Homo sapiens: one gene and its partners. The protein of the gene in region 3 purifies or fractionates together with the protein of the main gene of each other region. This does not show direct contact. Each region holds a gene or a part of one and is shown on either strand. Other genes may lie near its edges.

Region 1 (3,500 bases), on a different chromosome or scaffold from region 3:
AGTATATGGAATCTGAGAGAATGCAGTTAGTCTGATTTTATTCAACAAGTATTTATTGAGTGCCTGTTGAGAGTCGAGCATTGTGGGATTCAGCAGTTACTAAGTTACCTGAGTTTACATTGTTTTTGAAGGGAGACAAACACAAGTCAATAAATAACAATCAAAACAATTTCAGGAGCTGGGCATGATGGCACATGCCTGTAATCCCAGCTACTTGGGAAGCTGAGGTGGGAGGATTGCTTGAGGCCAGGAGTTCAAGACCAGCCTGGACAATATAGTGAGACCCCATCTCTACAGAAAATTAAAAAATAAAAATTAGCTGGACATGGTAGCTCATGCCTGTGGTCTCAGCTACTTGGGAGTGTGAGGTGGGAAGGTCACTTGAGACCAGGAAGTTAAGGCTGCTGTGAGCCATGATTGTGCCATTGCACTCCAACCTGGGTGACAGAGCAAGACCCTGTCTGAAAAAAAAAAAAAGAGAACACAGACCTACTGACAATCCTCCTGCCTCAGCCTCTCAAGCAGCTAATATAATGGTTTGACTGGAATTGTAATATATATATCTAATATAGCTGCTTGGGAGGCTGAGGTGGGAGGATTGTTTGAGGCCAGAAGTTTAAGACCAGCCTGGGCAACATAGCAAGACCCTGTCTCTAAGCACATACACAAAAAAATACAATTTTGGATAATGTTAAGTGCTATGAAAAAAACAGAGTAAAATGATATTGCCTGGAGGATGGGTTGGTGGGGGGTGATGATTTTGCTTGGAACCAGAAATATCTAATCTCTTCAGCCCTTGTGCTCTTAAGTCATTTGTTCACTGTTTCAGTTTCTGCAGGTCTAAAATATGATTAGGAATTTTTAACACCCAAGAAAAAAGTCTTTGCTAAGTGATCCAGATTTCCCACACCATTGATTATTCACCTAGGATACATATGTCAACTTTTTTTTCCCTTTTTTTAGACAGGGTTGCCTGGGCTGGAGTGCAGTGGCACAATCACAGCTCACTACAAGCGATCCTTCCACCTCAGCCTTCCAAGTAGCTGAGACCACAGATGTGAACCACCATGCCCAGCTTTTTTTTTTTTTTGGTAGAGATGGGGTCTCACTAGATACTGCCCAAGCTGGTCTCAGACTCCGAGGCTCAAGTTGTCCTCCCACCTTGGCCTCCCAAAGTACTGGGATGACAGGTGTGAATGACCGTGCCCAGCCTACTGTTAATTTTTATAGCCAAAAAAATGTAATCTTTTGTCCCAGTTCTAACACATTTTTTTACCTTTATGTAACTTTTAATTAATGACATACACATTCTCTGCCAAACCAATTTTCTTTACATATCTCTATCACTCATAAATGCAAACTCAGCACCTTAAACAAATCCCTCCCATTGGCAGTGAATGTTTTAAAATTCTGTTATTCATGTTCTGTTGGCTTTTCCATGGGACGTCACAAGCTGACTATCCAACTTGCTTTTAACATTTCCTTGGAAAATTGACTCTTGCTTGCCAACAGATTAGTAAGCAACTCTCTGAAGAATATGAAAGGATTGTCAATCCTGAGAAGGCCACAGAGGACGCTAAACCTGTGAAGATCAAGGAGGAACCTGTGAGCGACATCACTTTTCCTGTCAGTGAGGAGCTGGAGGCTGACCTTGCTTCTGGAGACCAGTCACTGCCTATGGGAGTGCTTGGGGCTCAGAGCGAACGCTTCCCATCTAACCTGGAGGTTGAAGCTTCACCACAGGCTTCAAGTAAGACAAATAAACTTACTCACTTTGATTCTGGGAGATCTGCCAATTTCAGTACTTTTTGCTTTTTGGAATCAAGCTCAAGAGGTAGAAGAACAAAAGCAGCAGTGGGCAGAATGGAAAGTCCTAAAACGAATACAGTTTCACCTATCTAGAGATCCCAGCATTCTTCTCTTTCTAATTAGTGAAGAGAGGATTAGCACAGCTTTACAGGCATTCTTTAAAATAATCCCTAGTTAAGATGTAGATGCAATGTGTTGTCACGTTGATTACCAAGGCTGATTCAGCTGATCCAGCTGGTTGGGAAGATATCCCCTTCCTCCTTTAGTATTTTATTTTTAGTATTCTGTATTGGTCCTTCCTGATGCTTGTACTTCATTGAATAAGACAGCTGCCAGATAGATGGGGGAGTGTTAATTGCTCAAGGATGTTCTCAGAGTTTGGCTTCCCTGCTAGAGTATTCTAACAAACTGAAGATGAAAGACATTGAAATAGGGCTTCCGGCTGGGCGCAGTGGCTCACGCCTGTAATCTCAGCACTTTGGGAGGCTGAGGCGGGCGAATCACGAGGTCAGGAGATCGAGAACATCCTGGCTAACACAGTGAAATCCTGTCTCTACTAAAAATACAAAAAATATGCTGGGCGTGGTGGTGGGCACCCGTAGTCCCAGCTACTCAGGAGGCTGAGGCAGGAGAATGGCATGAACCCAGGAGGCGGAGCTTGCAGTGAGCCGAGATTGCACCACTGCACTCCAGCCTGGGCAACAGAGCAAGACTCCGTCTCAAAAAAAAAGAAATAGGGCTTCCCAGTTAGAGGTAGCTGGCTTCTTTTTCCAGACTCTGTGATTACCTTAGGAGCCAGGACAACTGACTGGTTACGTGTCAGTTAGGTTGCAAATTAGTCTGGACACTCAGTTGTTTACAAGTATAAATTGTCATCAATGCACAAATGACTCAAATAGCAAATCCTCAAATGTGGTCTAAATGGAATTAGGTCATACTTTTAAAAGTGTTGGGCAGAGAGCCTTTCACTATGGAAGAATAACCATAAGAGAACAGCATTGCTAGAATACATAGAGAGATGCGAGGGCCAAAGAGAAATTGTTGCGGACTTCGGGACCATGTCTCTTCAAAGAAGACCAGGTAGAGAACTGCTGTTAGCATTATGTAGTGACCATTAACTTTTCATAATGCAAGAGATGACCAGAGACCCAAACAAAAGGCAGGAAAACAAGATGGCCCCATAAAAGAAGGAAGGAAGGACAGGCAAACTAAACAACTGAACAAGTCCTGTGGTTGTGCATGTCTTTGGGCTGTGAGACAGGGGATCTTTCCACCTGCCTAGTTTCACTTCCCTGGTTTAGGGGAAATGGGGGTGGGTGAGGTAGAGGAAAGAAAGGTAGAAGAAATGGAAAAGAAGATAATCAGAGCTGGTAATTTTTTGGGATGGTTAACTTTTTGAAGCAGAGAGTAACAACCATATTCTCCAGCCAAGTACAGAATCAGAGTGAAAACTGAGCTCAAAGCATATTAGTTGGTTCTGAGTGATATATTTACTCTTTGTTCTACACTTGGCTACACATATACACTTGGTGTATGTCCATCTTTCCTCTGTTTCTAGGTGCAGAGGTAAATGCTTCTCCTCTTTGGAATCTGGCCCATGTGAAAATGGAGCCTCAAGAAAGTGAAGAAGGCAATGTCTCTGGGCATGGTGTGCTGGGCAGTGATGTCTTCGAGGAGCCTATGTCAGGCAT
Region 2 (3,500 bases), on a different chromosome or scaffold from region 3:
AAGAACTTTGAAATTAAGAGAAACTTAGGTTGGAGTCCTAACTTACTAGCCGTGAACCTTCAGACATCATTTACGTTGAAGTCTCTAAGCTGCAGTTTCCTTTTGTATAAAATGTAGTTGATATTACCTATCTTGTAGGGTTGTTGGTGAGGGTTAAATAGGTAGTATATGCAATGTGCCTAGTACAGTATCCGACACATAGTATTTACTCTAAAAATAGTAGTTCCTTTGTGTGTAGTGAAATGTGACCAGGATTTGAGTCCTGGCCTTGCCACTCTTAGTTAGATGAACCTCAGTGGACATGTTACTTTTCAATTCTGAGCCCACATTTCCTTTCCCTTTTTTAAAAAATGAAGTTACAGTACTATTATGTATTTCACAGGATTGCTGAGAGTATAAAACCAAACAAAATAAAATAATGTGAAGGCATTTTGTAAACAGTTAAAAAAAAAGCATATACATTAAAAAACAAATTTACTCAAATATTTTGAAATTAATTTAAAAATTCCACAATTTGCGTGTTATTTGGCTATATCAAAGGATAGGTGTTGTTATTTTCTCTCTGACAAAAGCCTTGTCTTATGTGCAGATGATAAGAGGACGCTTGTGTGATGATACCAAACCTGAAACATTTAACCAGTTGTGGACTGTTGAAGAACAGGTAATAAATATTTCAAAATCGTGTAGGCTTAAAAAAACAAGTAAACAGTTAACATCAGAGTCAGTATTATGAGGCCAGGTCCAGTGGCTCACGCCTGTAATCCCAGCACTTTGGGAGGCTGATATGGGTGGATCACTTGAAGTCAGGAGTTCAAGACCAACCTGGCCAACATGGTGAAACCCTACTAAAAATACAAAAATTAGCCGGGTGTGATGGCGTGTGCATATATAATCCCAGCTACTCGGGAGGCTGAGGCAGGAGAATTGCTTGAACCCAGGAGGCAGAGGTTGCATTGAGCCAGGATCATGCCACTGCACTCCAGGCTGGGCAACAGAGTGAGACTCCATCTCAAAAAGAAAAGAGCCTGTATTTTGAGTCAGGTGTATATTGTTGTATGTGATGCCTGTTAGCCATGAGTTTTAAATATTTAGGCTTATTTTTGTATACCTTTTTGCATACGTCAAGAATTTTGGATTTTGAGAATGTGTAAACTTTTGTTTGGGGATAATTTTAAAAGAAGGAACCTGGGTTTTGAGAGGGGAGTAGAAGTGGATAGAATAAAATAGATGTTTTTGTAATGTAGCTTTGGGAGAGAGAAAAACCTGAGGCCAGTAAAGCTGAGCTTCAAAGTGCATTCTTATTTTTGTTGTCGAAGGGAGGTGAGGAAGTCAAGTCAGTTTTGGCATACAGTTTAGAATTGTTTTTTGGCTAATGGCTAGGGTTGTTAGTGGGTGAAGTTTGAGGCACATCTTTGTCTCATATGGCTATTAACCCCACAGCTATACATTTAACAGTTTATAAAAAGCTTTGGGAAATCTATTTATTTCAAGCATCCAGATTTTTCTGCATCTTTAGGACTATGAGAAGATACAGGAGACAAGAAGGAATATTAAAATCAAATATTTGAATAAAGGACCATACAAAAGAAGGAAAAGCCTCTTTTAATAGTCGAAATTTAAGTGAATTTACACGTTTTTGTTAAAACTGTAGGGGAAAGAAAAGTAAGAAAAGATTGACCATCTTTTCTTGGATTTCAGTGGATTTAGTGATTTCAGTGGAAATCACTAAAATGTGTAATCTACCAATTTGTTTACTTATTTTCTGTTTTCTTATGAGATATTTTTACTTATGTGAATAGAAAACTTTTCTAAGCTCTTTCATAAGTTTATTCTCTAATTTCATTGTTCCCTGTGAAGTCTTAAGTTTCTAACTAGAAATTTTTCCTACCATGAGGATTTCTAATTACGTAACCCCCAAAGGTGGGAGAGAGTATTACATTTTGAAATGAAATGTGAATGTATTTATTTAGAAATCCAATATTTAAAATTAAATACATATTTTCTTAAATTTGGTCTTGGGTATGGCTTAGAAAAAGCTGGAACAGCTACTCATCAAATACCCTCCTGAAGAAGTAGAATCTCGACGCTGGCAGAAGATAGCAGATGAATTGGGCAACAGGACAGCAAAACAGGTAATTGAGGAGATGACTGCAGATTGCTGGTATGCTTTTGGTAGTTTTTTAATAAAGGAGAATAATGCAGCTGACATTGGGCGATCTGCCATAACACTTTCAGCTACAGAGTGCTGTAGTATGTGGTGTTTTTTTAAAAAAATTGTATATATTTTCGTTGATTTCAGAAACAACTTGAGATACTTCTGCTTTGGATCATTACGAAATATTAAAAAATGAACATATAATGGACTTAATTTCTCTTGAATGCTTACTAAATATACTAATTGTATACTTTTTGGTTATACTGAGCAAACAGATTTGTTTCATTGCCTTAGTGTTTCCTGGTTGTCTTTCTAAAAATGTATCTTGCAGTTTACTCCTTCATATTCCCATCTATATTAATAGATGTGTTTTTATACTACAAATGTAAGTGTTCACAAGTTGAAATATGTGTTTAGCTTTAGAATCAAATTTAAATTTACTTGAATAATTTTTGTTTGGCCTAGATTTTAAAATATATGTGTATTTGGTGGCAGTTTATTGTTAATTCTAGATTCATGATGAGTATTGAATTCTTAGCATTCATTAGATACTCATGTACGTTTTAATTTTTAAAAACGACTCAGGTATTGTATGTCATCTCATTGTGTTAAGAGACTTGTCATGTTTCCTTAGGTTGCCAGCCGAGTACAGAAGTATTTCATAAAGCTAACTAAAGCTGGCATTCCAGTACCAGGCAGAACACCAAACTTATATATATACTCCAAAAAGGTAAAAGAAAATACATGAAAGTAAACTGTAGATTAAATTTATTAAAGTAAGAATTGCTATGTAAAAATCTACACATTTGACAGAATAGTGTTGTATTTTAAAACTTCTGTTCATTCTAAGCATTTCCTTATATTGTGCAAAAGTGGAGGGTAAGGACTCCATTATTGCTGCTCAGTGAAATTCATGATTCTTCATTATTTTCTTTGGAGTAATGTGAATGAGTGCTACTTGAAAGATTTTAGATTCAAAATATGTTAGAAAGGCCTTTGTGAGGGTAAAGTTTTTAGGATATTTGATTATTTAATAAATCAATCATTTAATAAATTTAATAGATCAATTTCTGTTTTGTAGATAATGCTACATAAATCCAAGAATAGAAAGGTTTATTATGATATTCTAAAGCCAGGCACAGTGGTGTGCACCTGTTGTCCCAGCTACTTGGGAGGCTGAGGCACGAGGAACACTTGAGGCCAGGAGTTTGAGTCCAACTTAGGCAACATAGTGAGGTCCCGTATCTTTAAAAAAATAAAATATTGTATTTAATCCTTTCTACAATTCTTGAAATATAAGTAGTCTTATCATCTTCACTTTACTGACATAATATTAATAGCTAGC
Region 3 (3,500 bases):
TGCAGGAACCTCCTGAAATGAGGAGAGGGGGCCTCAGGTCTGCCCGAGGGTCACACAAAAGGAGGGGAGACTCTGGGGAGAGGTGCTGGCCCAGAGCAGAACTGGGTGGAAGGACCTCATCCTTTCTGAAAGGCTGAACCCAAAGACAGACCCCTGCATGGCCTTGAAGCCCCAGGAAGCCTCTGTGAAGTTAGTTTATGGGGATTCCAGGGTGGCAGGAACCCAAAGAACCCAGCAGAAGCAAACACAGAACTTGGCTGGAGTGAGGCTCCTTCATCCTAAAGCTCAGGGAATCTTCCCAAAGAGTATTTCCACAGCAGGGATGGGTGTGGTGGCTCACGCCTGTAATCTCAGCACTTTAGGAGGCTGAGGCAGGAGGATCACTTGAGGTCAGGAGATCGACACCAGCCTGGCCAACATAGAGAAACTCCTTCTCTACTAAAAATACAAAAATTAGCCCGGCGTGGTGGCGGGCGTCTATAATCCCAGCTACTTGGGAGGCTGAGGCAAGAGAATCGCTTGAACCTTGGGGGCAGAGCTTGCAGTGAGCCGAGATTGTGTCACTGCACTCCAGCCTGGGTGACAGAGCGAAACTCCATTTCAAAAAAAATACGTATTTCCACAGTAGTCAGCAGCACAAACTCCACTTTGGGTCATTTTATTTTCCTCTGATACCATGGCAAACCCCAGTCCATTCCTCTGGCAAGCCTTTCTGAAATGACCCGGAGTTCTAAAGACCTTTGTGCGGCAGGAAGGAGATGCACAGGAACTGGGTGTGATGCAGCATCTCGGGAGGTGTCCGGGGGTGCCCCAGGGCATGTGACTCATGGACCTCACCAGGCCAGGGCCAGAAGATGGAGGTAGGCCAAGGGCAGCCAAACCAACGCAGGGACAAGGAACAGCTTGCCTGCTGCGTACAATGCAGGGATGGCCCAGCCAGTGCCACCTCAGGCTGTGAGCACCGGGACCCCAGAAAGCAGAGAAGGAGAAAGAGCCACGGGGCCAAAGGGAACTCTGAGAGTCTCATCACTGTTGCCAGGCCTGTGTGGAGGATACAGTTTTATACAGCCTGTCCTAAACTGTCTTCTGTGACATGTTACTGAAGTGGCTTTCAAACCTTGGTGGGCATCAGAATCTCCTGGGGGAAGTTTAAAAAATCTCAATTGTTTCACGCACAAATCATAAATGGATGCTAAAACTAGTGTGTTTGATATGAACAGGATAGTTACAGTCTCAAAAGTATCTCCCAAGACACTTATTAATTATGCAATGGAGGCCAGGTGCAGAGGCTCACACCTGTAATCCCAGCACTTTGGGAGGCCAAGGTGGGTGGATCGCTTGAGCTGAGGAGTTCAAGACCAGCCTGGGCAACATGGCAAAACCCCTCTCTACAAAAAATACAAAAATTAGGTGGAGTGGTGGCAGGTGCCTATTGTCCCAGCTACTCAGGAGGCTGAGGCAGGAGGATCACTTGAGGCCAGGAGTTTGAGGCTGAAGTGAGCCATGATTACGCCACTCCACTCCAGCCTGGATGACAGACTGAGACCCTGTCTTAATCGATCAATCACACAATGGAAAATAGCAGTAATCTGATACAAGAGAAACGTGGAAAATACCACTTTAACCAATGGCACAGACAGCATCCTGTGCCGTCTAATATGACCCACCAGAGACACCTCTTCTGTGCCAAAAGTGTAAAGCATGAATCCTACTAGTGAGGAAATGTCAGATAGTTAATACCAATGTTGGAGCTCCACCCCAAATAAACAGAGCCTCTGGGCACAGTCAGACTTCAGAACCAGTGTGTTCTCAAAGTAGAGGAATGTAATGTTCAAGTTCCTGAATCTCCTGCAGAGATTCAAGGAAACAGTGTTTCCAGATCATTTTTTTATTTTAGTTTTTTTTTTTTTTTTGAGGCAGAGCCTTGCTCTGTTGCCCAGGCTGGAGTGCAGTGGCACGATCTTAGCTCACTGCAACCTCCGCCTCCTGCCTCAGCCTCCCAAGTAGCGTGCGCCACCACACCTGGCTAATTTTTGTATTTTTAGTAGATATAGGGTTTCGCTATGCTAGCCAGGCTGGTCTCAAACCCCCAACCTCAGGTGATCCACCCACCTTGCGATTGCAGGCATGAGCCACTGTGCCTGCCCGGCCTTAAGATTATTTTAAAAGCAGGAGTTTTCTGGAAGTGAAACTTCTCCATCTCAGAACCATAAAACCTTCAGGTCATCTGAGTATGACTTCCCAGCCAAGCTTACAGACACATGCCACCACGCTCAGCTAATTAAAAACTTTTTGTAGAGACAAAGTCTCACTTTGTTGCCCAGGCTGGTCTCAAACACCTGCGTTCAAGTGATCCTCTAACCTCGGCCTCCCAATCACCTCTGTAATGTTGTGATTACAGATCTGAGCTACCCAGCCCCTGATATCCCTATTTTAATGACTCTGCCAAGGTCATAGAGCCAGTAAACGGCAGTGTTGACTCACGCCTTGCCACCTTCTGTAAAGGCATTAGCAGCAGAGGTAACTGGAAGAGTGGGCCTGGCAGTGGGCCAGGGAATGCGGGACCCAAGCGAGAGGCTGGGAGTAGCAATCAGCTTATCCATGGGAGGAAGGCAGGCTGGGGACTTGGTCCAAATGGACCTGCAGCCCAGCCCCCAGGAAAGGAGGGAGCGGCGATGAAGTGGGTGCACGGTACTCACTTGCACTCAGCCTCTGCATCGGCCTTGGCGGTTGTGTAGAGGCCACGCAGCTTTGTCCGGTAATAGGGAGAAACTGCAGAGGAAACACAGGGATAAGGAGGCAGGGCCAGGGCAGGCACAGTAGCATGGCACTGCTTCCATGCACCGGAATCACACTCGTGGAGGCACAGAGAGGCCGTAGCTGCAGTCAGAGCTCTGCTGGCTCAGGAGTGCTCCTGAGGCGGATGCCCCCAGGCTCCATGAGTCCGCATTTCCATATGGTACAAATGCCATCCCTACATCTGCGAGAGTACTGTCTTACCTTTTCTCCATCATGACACTCACAGAAAATATTTGTCAGGACCCAGGAAAACACAATTCTCAGAGTTACCCAGAGTAAGAAAGCCCCAGCCCCAGGATCTCACCACCTGAGGGCCTCAGGGCAGATGCAGGGGCCGCCTGGGAAGGAAGCTCCTTTCTAGAAAACACCAGCTAACTGGGGCGCTTGTGTGCTCTAAGGGCAAGCTTCCCTAGATACAGCCTCATTTCACTGCCTTTCGAATCCTCAGAGTAGAGGGATTTTAGTTCTTCAGGTCACCCAGATTAACGGAAAGCTGTCCCTCCTGCTGCATTTTGGAATATGCAGATACATGCAAATCTATTTTGAATACAATGACCACCTCGGTCACAGTCTTGGCCATACTCACCCTAGCCCCATCTCATCCCCTTTCTCTCCTGAGCCCAGCTACTCACTCTTGTTCTCTGTCTGCATCCGCTCATGGGTCTTCTGGATGTTCACTAAGTTGTGTTCGCTCCGCGAAC
Region 4 (3,500 bases), about 39 Mb from region 3:
ACCCTGGTCAGTCCAACTTACCCTACCTCCCTCTCACGCCCTACTCACTGAAGTCCTCGTGGGCAGTGTGGGTGGGCAGTGGGGCCACCACATCAGGGTTCAGCTGTGGCTGGAAGCGGATCTGCACATCTTGCAGTGCCCTGCAGGAAAAGAAGGGGGAGAATAAAGTGCTCCAAGGGCAAGGGTCAGTAGAGTGGAGACAGACACAGACAGGACACTGGCGGGCCTCCCCACTCACTCACTTAGTATGCACACAAAAGAGCTTGATGAGCACACCGGCCGCAGACTCCATGGCACCGGCTCCATGGGTACCATCTGAAAGGACAGTGTGGATGATGAAGCCCCTGGCCCTCTCTGTGCCTCCACAACCCCCTAGATATATGGACACATAGCTCTGACCCTGAGGCAGCTCACCAGCACCCAGGCTGTCATTTTCCTCTTCGGCAGGCAGCACCTCAGTGTGCCGTAGCCGGCAGCGACTCACAACCTGGATACCAAAGCTCAGCACAGGGTGGGTGAGCAGGAACTCCGAGATGGAGCTGAAGCAGGCGTGGCCCTCCTCCTGGTTTTGCAGCAGCTCCATCACATAGAGGACCTGCACAGGCAGAACGTTCCTAGCTGAGCTCAGAGGCTAAGGGCTGTGATGCGCCACCTGCCCCCCGGCCTTCCTCTATAATCCCAACTCTGCCCAGGGTACCCCATGGCAGCCTACCTTCCGTTGCACATCGCTGAGAATCAGGTATTCTGCTGAGAGGTCCAAGCAAACCTTGAGGCTAGGGGGCACACTCACTGAGCTGAAGATATCTGGGGAGAAGCTAGAGAGCCACAAAGCAGAGTGAATGAGCCTGAGAACTGAAGGAAGCTACATTCCCAACCCTGCCGCCCCTGCCCAGTCCCCCAGCCTTCCAGCCACTGCTTACCGAATAGTCTGCAGGCAGGTCCAGGATACTGTACACCACATCTTTAACTCTCGGTTCTGGTCAGCACCAGTAATAAGGAACCTCCAGAAAGGGACACTGCAAGGCAACAAGGCAGTGAGTGACTGGCTGGGGCCCCTGCTGGGAGCCATGGTCCAGCCCACCACCCACTAGGCTGCCCACTCACTCACTCAGGGTCTTGTTTCTTATGGTTGTCACAGAACAGGAGGCAGGAGAGGGGCCGCCCATCATGAGGTTTCCACTCGTGCAGACACCTGCAGGTAGGCAGATGAGGGGCCTGAGTGAGTGGTCGGGTGGGCTACCTCGGGAGGATCCTGGTCCCTGAGGCCCTGCCTTACCTTGGCTCATCTTGCCCCTCAATGTAGATCTGCCAGAACTTGACATAGCCATCGTGGCTCGCAGTAGCCAGCACAGTCCCATCAGGAGAGAGGGCTCCTTCACTGAGGCACTAGAAAGAACCCAAAAAGCTTTGCTGACTAGAGGTGAGAACAAGCCCCTCCCAAGTGAGGATGGCAATGAGCTGGGCTGACTCACGGTGGGACTGGCATGCTTGTGTGACTGACTAAATGAACAGGGTTCCTAGAGAAGGCCAGACCTGCAGGGTGCTGCTAGATAAGGAGAAAGCTGCACAGGTGAGGGCCAATTTGAGCTCAGAGTCCCCACGGGCAGAATGCTAGTAAAGCTGCCCGGGCAGCTGTGGATATAGGGAACAGAAGATGGATATGAGGAAGTGGGGAGGGCAGGGGAGGCAGGCAGTCACAGGCTTACCGTGCTATGACCTTTTACCACAATGAAGCCCTGCTTGATCTGGCTAACATCCACAGGCCAGGTACTGTGGCTGGAGCGGAGCATGTCCAGGTCCCACACCTCAGCCTGGAAGGCACAGGGAGGTGAGTGTGCAGCCCAACCCCACACTATGGCTTCTCTGGCGCCTCTTCGCCATGTCAGCCCCCTCACCCGGTCTTCATGCAGCAGGGCCACTGTTGGGCTGCTCTCCTCACAGCAGTCTTCGCTCTCCTCAGGGATGAAGGGGCACCAGATGATCCTGCGAAAGTGGTTCAGTGGCGTGCCCTCTGGCTGCCGAATATGGACCAAGATCTCTTCTCTGAGCAGGGTGTTAAGGGCTAGATAGATGAATGAAGAGGCGTGACACCCCAGCTCCGCCCACCCTTCTTCAGTCCCACCACCCACAGGAAGGAATGGATACTGAATTTTGCCATTAACCAGAGCCAAGCGCCACACGAACAGGTTGCCTGCCTCATCCAGGCAGGCCAGCTGTGGAGAGTTGAGGTGCGCGAAAGCCAGATCAGCCACACTGCCTGTGAAGCCCTTGAGCAAGGTCCGCTCCGAAGTGCTGACGCTGATCACCCGCACCATGGCAGAGCCATTGTTGGCAGCTGGAATCAGGAGAGCAGTGGACCATGAATACGTATCCAGGCTCAGGCAGTAGCAGAGAAGCGCTGCCCCACCTGTCTCCCTGCCACCACCAGAGTCTCAAGCTTGGTTTTCCCACCCAGCTCCCCAAGAGGCAGCATGGACAAACCTTCCATTGTACCCCTAAGGCCTGAGTGGCCTGATGTTGGAACTGGCTCTGTGGGACATCCAGCAGAACATTCCTTCCTCCTCACTGTCTTTACTCACCCCGAATGGCATAGGCCAAGAAGGAGTTAGACACAGCAATCAGGTTGCCATAGTAGTACTTCTGTTCCCAGTCATACTTGGCGACAGGCTGAATTTTCACCTGAGAACCCAGGGTGAGAAAAGTCATGGAACTTCCCCAGAGCCTAGGTGGCCCCCAACATCCCTGGGGATGGGAGAGGACACAGATGCAAGTCCAGCTACCCACTGTTACCTCCTGGAGCCAGACTCCCACAGAGGCTTGGCACCCAGCCCTGGCTTCCTGAAACTGGGAAAGTGTCAAGGTGGTCCCCATAGGAACTGGCAGCATGAGGGAGACTGGAAAGGCTGGGTGTGCCCCCGTACATTATATATGCCACAGCATCCCAGTACCTACCTTGTTGCTTCCCCGGGCCTTGCTTGAAATGCTAGAGTCACTGCTAGCCACAATCTCCACCTCCTTGGCCAAAATCCCAATGCAGGTGGAGCTATCATCTCCTGAGAGACAGCTGTGGGGAAGAGTGCAAAAACTTTGCCTCTTGTTCACCCAAAGGCTCAGCGGGCAGGGTTGGGAGGAAGCGAGGACATAGCCAGACTGGGGAAGGTATCTAGTCCAATGTCAGCTTCGCCTGGTCCACTGGCCCCAGACCCACAGCTCTGCTTGCTCATCTCCTTCCTTGGGAATGAGCCTACTTTCATTCTAAACCAGGTATCCAGGCCAAACCCCTGAGCTTGTCCTTGCCTCTCATCCTAGTGCAAGCTCAAGCTCCACCCCAGGTCATCTAGAGAGGAAGCAGCAGAGGCTGCTGGCCCCGCTCACTCCCCATCTCATGCCTTCAGCTAGCAGACACCCCAAATACACCATCACCACTATTGTCGTCTCCTAGGTACTCACATGACCTGCTTCTCTTGCAGGTTAATGGGTGGCATGGTCCGAAGACCAGT

Evidence for each region. The genes of interacting proteins can lie anywhere in the genome.
Region 1: the proteins of SGF29 (region 3) and SUPT7L purify together in Homo sapiens (affinity purification with mass spectrometry; 6 studies listed by BioGRID and IntAct, with this or other methods). This does not show direct contact.
Region 2: the proteins of SGF29 (region 3) and ZZZ3 purify together in Homo sapiens (affinity purification with mass spectrometry; 9 studies listed by BioGRID and IntAct, with this or other methods). This does not show direct contact.
Region 4: the proteins of SGF29 (region 3) and EDC4 purify together in Homo sapiens (affinity purification with mass spectrometry; 6 studies listed by BioGRID and IntAct, with this or other methods). This does not show direct contact.

The regions. Positions count from the first base shown.
Region 1 is NC_000002.12:27,653,615-27,657,114, reverse strand, and holds part of SUPT7L (STAGA complex 65 subunit gamma), read left to right. Parts: intron 1-1,512; coding exon 1,513-1,750; intron 1,751-3,367; coding exon 3,368-3,500.
Region 2 is NC_000001.11:77,578,159-77,581,658, reverse strand, and holds part of ZZZ3 (ZZ-type zinc finger-containing protein 3), read left to right. Parts: intron 1-589; coding exon 590-661; intron 662-2,030; coding exon 2,031-2,132; intron 2,133-2,789; coding exon 2,790-2,885; intron 2,886-3,500.
Region 3 is NC_000016.10:28,584,920-28,588,419, reverse strand, and holds part of SGF29 (SAGA-associated factor 29), read right to left. Parts: coding exon 3,432-3,500; intron 2,773-3,431; coding exon 2,700-2,772; intron 1-2,699. UniProt on the Homo sapiens protein: Chromatin reader component of some histone acetyltransferase (HAT) SAGA-type complexes like the TFTC-HAT, ATAC or STAGA complexes.
Region 4 is NC_000016.10:67,876,052-67,879,551, reverse strand, and holds part of EDC4 (enhancer of mRNA-decapping protein 4), read right to left. Parts: coding exon 3,451-3,500; intron 3,065-3,450; coding exon 2,953-3,064; intron 2,680-2,952; coding exon 2,580-2,679; intron 2,336-2,579; coding exon 2,146-2,335; intron 2,044-2,145; coding exon 1,896-2,043; intron 1,812-1,895; coding exon 1,707-1,811; intron 1,387-1,706; coding exon 1,277-1,386; intron 1,193-1,276; coding exon 1,109-1,192; intron 1,017-1,108; coding exon 921-1,016; intron 816-920; coding exon 713-815; intron 596-712; coding exon 415-595; intron 316-414; coding exon 243-315; intron 141-242; coding exon 49-140; intron 1-48. UniProt on the Homo sapiens protein: In the process of mRNA degradation, seems to play a role in mRNA decapping. Component of a complex containing DCP2 and DCP1A which functions in decapping of ARE-containing mRNAs. Promotes complex formation between DCP1A and DCP2.